Regions from separate parts of the Homo sapiens genome. Here region 1 is linked to region 2. Evidence: fine-mapped expression QTL. A gene starts in region 2. The other region holds a variant in brackets. All regions are shown on one strand. Distances are between the middles of the regions. Region 1 overlaps YPEL1 (yippee like 1). Region 2 holds the start of THAP7-AS1 (THAP7 antisense RNA 1).

What was found. PIP is the estimated chance that this variant, and not a neighbour inherited with it, causes the effect.
Region 1: its variant is the best candidate, but not a certain one, in a credible set for the expression of THAP7-AS1 in spinal cord (GTEx, PIP 0.79).

Annotation. Positions count from the first base shown.
Region 1 is chr22:21,715,830-21,718,733 of GRCh38, reverse strand. All of the region lies in intron 1 of YPEL1 (yippee like 1), which reads left to right. Among named protein-coding and RNA genes, the nearest start is that of YPEL1, 19 kb to the left of the region's middle. The variant A/T (reference allele first, on the strand shown) is at 1,563.
Region 2 is chr22:21,000,069-21,002,972 of GRCh38, reverse strand. THAP7-AS1 (THAP7 antisense RNA 1) reads right to left here and starts at 1,051. Exons shown (of 2, transcript NR_027051.1): 1 at 144-1,051. It overlaps THAP7 (THAP domain containing 7), which reads left to right and starts at 855. Exons shown (of 4, transcript NM_030573.3): 1 at 855-1,141; 2 at 1,562-1,717; 3 at 2,186-2,326; 4 at 2,541-2,904. The coding sequence starts at 1,062. RefSeq lists silencers at 1-250, 892-1,001, 1,022-1,191 and an enhancer at 1,792-2,001.

The sequences.
Region 1 (2,904 bases), 720 kb before region 2:
TAGATGAAGTCATCTCTGTTGATAAATGTGATGAACTGTTGATTTTGTTAATGAAATCGGATTCAGCTTGGTTTCTCTTCTCCTGCAGATGTGCTTGGTCCAGCAGTATTCCCCTGGGAACTGTTCTCCAGGCGCTGCAGAGCTCCTCTGTGCTGTCTGTATCCACCTGTGGTCTGTTTCCGGGCTCTCTTTCATGTCACATTGACCTGTTTTTGTATCTTATGCCAGTCTTTTTTCTTTTATTTATTTATTTATATTATTATTTTTTTTTGATGGAGCCTCGCTCTGTTGCCCAGGCTGGAGTGCAGTGGTGCGATCTCAGCTCACTGCAAGCTCCACCTCCTGAGTTCACGCCATTCTCCTGCCTCAGCCTCCCAAGTAGCTGGGACTACAGGTGCCCACCACCACGCCCCACTAATTTTTTTTGTATTTTTAGTAGAGATGGGGTTTCATTGTGTTAGCCAGGATGGTCTCCATCTCCTGACCTCATGATCCACCCGCCTTGGCCTCCCAAAGTGCTGGGATTACAGGCATGAGCCACTGCACCCAGACTCAGACTCTTTGTTGTTGTTGTTGTTGTTTTGTTTTTGTTTTTTTTTTTTTTTGAGACAGAGTCTCACTCATTACCTAGGCTAAGTCCAGTGGCACAATCTCTGCTCATTGCAGCCTCGACCCCTTGGGCTCAAGCAATCCTCCCACTTCAGCCTCCCTAGTAGCTGGGACCACAGACACGTGACGCCACACTTGGCTAATTGAAAAACACTTTTTTTGCGTAGAGACAGGGTCTCACTGTTGCACAGGCTGGTCTCAAACTCCTGGGCTCAAGCAATCCTCCTGCCTTGGCCTCCCAAAGTGCTGGGATGACAAGTGTGAGCCACTATGTCCAGCCTTTGCCCCACTTCTTGAAAGATATTTTCACTGAATGTAAAATCTGAGATATCAGTTATTATCTTTCAGAATCATAATTGTCCCTTTCTCTGCTGCCTTTTGGGCTCTTGTTTTACCTGGGAGCTTGTTCTGTTGAACAGGTCATTTTTCCTTCCTCTGGACACTTTTAAGACTTTTTTCCCCTTTATCTTTGGTGTTTTGCAGTTTCATTATTTGTCTAGCTGTGGCTTTATTTTTATTTATCCTGCTTTAGGACTGTTGGGCTTTTTAAGTCTGTGGATTAGTAGCTTTTCCTTAATTCTGGAGAATCCACAATCATCAATTATTCACAAAGCGCCTCTACCCCATTTTCTTCTTGCCTCAACCTTCTGAAATCCAAATAAATGTCATCTCTCCCTGCTTCACATCTCTTAGTTTAAGACTCATATTTCCACCTTCCTCACTGTTTTTTTGTTTTTTTTTTTTTTTTGAGACGGACTATTGCTCTGTTACCCAAGGCTGGAGTGCAGTGGCGCAATCTCAGCTCACTGCAACCTCCGCCTCCCGGGTTCAAGCAACTCTCCTGCCTCAGCCTCCTGAGTAGCTGAGACTACAGGCAGACACCACCACGCCCGGCTAATTTTTGTATTTTTAGTAGAGACGGGGTTTCACCGTGTTGGCCAGGCTGGTCTCGA[A/T]CTCCTGACCTTGTGATCCGCCCCCCGCCCCCCCAGCCCCGGCCTCCCAAAGTGCTGGGATTACAGGCGTGAGCCAGCGCGCCCGGCCTCTCGCTCTTCTTTATTCAGCATAATTTATTCTGACGTATCTTCAGTGTAGGTATTCTCTTTTTATTCTCCTATTCCTGTTAAACCCATTGGGCTGAATGCTGTTTATTTCTAGAATGTCTACACCTGTTTTTCTGCAAGGTCATTTTTTTTCTCGTTTGCTGTTGGTTACATATACTCTCAAGCTCATCGGTTCCCTCCGTGAGTACAGGTAAGTGGAGGAGCCTCATGGTCTGCCTCAGGTCTTTGAGATGTTGAGTCTCTGGATCTGGTCCTGCTGCTGGCCTTTTCTGTCCTTGCTCATGGGGCATTGTTTCTGTGAATGTGTGGTTACTTTTGACTGCATTACTCATTGTCCTGGAAAAATGACTTTGTGGGAATTTTTCAGATCTAGGATAAAGATGCTTCCTCCAAACTAGGTTTACGCTTCCTTCTGCCAGGTACCTCAGGGCGCTGTCAGCCTAAAGCCAATTTAAACTAAATCCATCAACTGTGAGCTTTTGGAATCTTCTCACTGGTGTGAATTTGGGCCATAAGTCCTGTGAGGGCTGTCCTATGATCACTGCTCTGTGGGGTGGGGACCAGCCTTAGAGTTCTCATCGGAAGCCCGGGGTGGCTGGATGGGGGCAGATGTTTTCAGGGCAAGAGCGGCTTGGCTCGCCTCTCTGGTTTCTGGTTTCCCCAGATGGTGCCTGGCGGCTCCTCACTGTCTTGTCAGCCCCTGGATGCCTTTAAGAAAACATCCTTTTATTTTGTCAGCATTTTTGGTACTTCTCAGTGGGAGGGCTGGTCCAAGTATTTGGCTTATCATAGTTTTACAAAAAGTTGGTTTCTATGAAATCTTAAGTCACCTCTTTTTTAAAAATGTAACTTTTAGTCTGGGCGCGGTGGCTCACTCCTGTAATCCCAGCACTCTGGGAAGCCGGGGCAGGCAGATCACTTGAGGCCAGGAATTTGAGACCAGCCTGGACAACATGGTGAAACCCCATCTCTACTAAAAATACAAAAATTAGTCAGGTGTAGGGCCAGGCGCAGTGGCTCACGCCTGTAATCCCAGCACTTTGGGAGGCCAAGGCAGGTGGATCAACTCAGGTTGGGAGTTTGAGACCAGCCTGACCAACATGGAGAAACCCCGTCTTTACTAAAAATACAAAATTAGCTGGGTGTGGTGGCGCATGCCTGTAATCCCAGTGCTCGTGAGGCTGAGACAGGAGAATCACTTGAACCCGGGAGGTGGAGGTTGTGGTGAGCCAAG
Region 2 (2,904 bases):
CTGGCAGCTCTGGAGGATTATGAAGATGTGGGCATGGATTCCGTGGAAGCTGAGGCTGAAGAAGGCGAAGAATAGTGAGGGGAGGGTGCGGCAGGCAACCATCCCTCTGTATTCCCCACCATAACGCTAGGAGAGCTAATTACCTATTAAAATTTCCGTATTGCAAATTAGCCGGGCGTGGTGGCGGGCGCTTGTAGTCCCAGCTACTGTGGAGGGTGAGGCAGCCGAATGGCGTGAACCCGGGAGGCGGAGTTTGCAGTGAGCCGAGATCGCGCCACTGCACTCCAGCCTGGGCGACAGAGCGAGACTCCGGTCTCAGGAAAATAATAATAAAATAAAAAATAAAATTTCTGTATTGCGATACTGTCTTTCTCCTGTGTTGTACTTTGAGAGATTCCTCCTCCAGATAACCCTCCCTGAAGTCCACCTCCCCAGTACGAGAGTGAGTGCGGGCTCTGGTTTTTGTCGGGTTCTTTCGTGCAAGCGTCCCAGGCCCCGTTTTATTTCTTCCGTCAGAGGTCATTCCGAGGCGAGCTGCCGCCCCTGCGGCTTTCGAGGCTCCCAGGACACTGCCGCTTTCCGCTCCCGGGCCGCTCCCGAACGCTGGGGCCGCTCCATCGTGCCGGGGTGTTTACGGAGAAAAGTGAGGCCTGAGCGGACGAAAGAGAAGCCCACGTGGGCGACAATACTGGTAGTCCAGGGAGCTGGGACGACGCGGGCGCGTCAGAAACTCGCACGCTCGCGCCGCTTACTAACCCAGCTAGCTAGGACCTCGCCCCGCCCCGCCCCGGTGGCGGGGGCACCTCCGGCTCTCCAGTCTCTATGGTACCAACTTCCGGCGCGCGCTACCCCTCGCGAGACTTCGGCGGCGCAGCAATGGCCAGAGCGTGAGTGCCGCTGACAGAAGTCAAGAGAATCGGCTGGGACGGGGTTGGGGCGACAACGGGCCGGGGGGGACCCGACAGGCCAGAGCCCCTTGGGGAGGAGCGGCGGCTGGAGGCGCGAGGCTCCTCCGGATGCCCGGAGAGCCGCTTGCGACTTAACTCCCGCCTCTTTCCCAGATGCCGCGTCACTGCTCCGCCGCCGGCTGCTGCACACGGGACACGCGCGAGACGCGCAACCGCGGCATCTCCTTCCACAGGTCAGCGCGCGTGCGCCGCGGGCTCACGTGCGCATGCGCTAGTTGTTGCTCGCCTCGGGTCGCAACTGCGTAGAGGCTTCGCGCCTTTCTCAGATACTGAGGAGGCTTGAACCTGTGGGTGGGAGGTGAAGCGGAACGGTCCCGGCGGGACTGAATGCAGTCGGGAAGGGGAGGACGGGAAGTCTAGCCGGCTTGGACCCGCCCCACTCTGTTACCTGCCAGATGACGCTGAGGAAACTGCTTTTCTTCTCGAGGCCTCCGTTGCCTCGTCTGTGCCCGGGCGGTGGTGCTTACCCGGCGGGGTCGCAGGGAGGTCTCGTGGCGGCGCGTGTTGGGTCTGCGTTTCCCCTCTGGGGTGCTTGGGCAGCATGAGCCCAGGGCTGTGGACAGCCTGGTGCTCACGGGTTTGTGGCTCCACAGACTTCCCAAGAAGGACAACCCGAGGCGAGGCTTGTGGCTGGCCAACTGCCAGCGGCTGGACCCCAGCGGCCAGGGCCTGTGGGACCCGGCATCCGAGTACATCTACTTCTGCTCCAAACACTTTGAGGAGGACTGCTTTGAGCTGGTGGGAATCAGGTGGGCCTCCCTGCCGGCCGACGCTGGGGTAGGATGTGGGGCTCCCGGCGGACTGGGACAGCTGCAGGTCATGGAAGTCCCTTGAGCAGCCTGCGTCCAAGGGGGCTGTTTCCTGTTCCCAGCTCTGCACAGTGAAACCCACCCCCAGGATCACTGTGCCTGTGACACAAGGGGAAAACAGGAGCCTTTCCAGAGAGTATCTTTCAGAGCCCCAGTCTTGCCAGCAAGTCCACAAATCAAAGAATTCTTTCTGGCTGGTCAGCCCAGCTCGGCTTATGCAGGCTTTCCACACACCTGGACTGTGAGGAGTCCTGCGGGGAAGCGATTGGTGTAGCTGTAACTTGGCGTTCCCCAGACGTATTGTTTGCACGATGCCTTCCAGCATCCCACGGCGCTGCTGCTGGGGGCAGATTGGCCTGGGGAGGCAGCACTTGCTCTCCAGCTCATCTGGGTTGCTTTTCCCCGCAGTGGATATCACAGGCTAAAGGAGGGGGCAGTCCCCACCATATTTGAGTCTTTCTCCAAGTTGCGCCGGACAACCAAGACCAAAGGACACAGTTACCCACCTGGCCCCGCTGAAGTCAGCCGGCTCAGACGATGCAGGAAGCGGTATGTGATATGGGTGGGGGATGCCCCACTCCCACCCCTAGGCTGAGGGACTGGGCCCTAGGGGTGTCTGCCAGCAGTCTCGCTGGACAGGGTTCTTGCTACACAGAACCTGTGGATCGGGTTTGGGTGTTAAGGGTGGATCAGGTGGGCTGGTGGAGGGGGGTCTGGCAAGCCCTCAGCCTAGCCCATCAGTCTCTCTCTTCCCCCTTACCAGCTGCTCCGAGGGCCGAGGGCCCACAACTCCATTTTCTCCACCTCCACCTGCTGATGTCACCTGCTTTCCTGTGGAAGAGGCCTCAGCACCTGCCACTTTGCCGGCCTCCCCAGCTGGGAGGCTGGAGCCTGGCCTTAGCAGCCCCTTTTCAGACCTACTGGGCCCCTTGGGTGCCCAGGCAGATGAAGCAGGCTGCAGCGCCCAGCCTTCACCAGAGCGGCAGCCCTCCCCTCTCGAACCACGGCCAGTCTCCCCCTCAGCGTATATGCTGCGCCTGCCCCCACCCGCCGGAGCCTACATCCAGAATGAACACAGCTACCAGGTGGGCAGCGCCTTACTCTGGAAGCGGCGAGCCGAGGCAGCC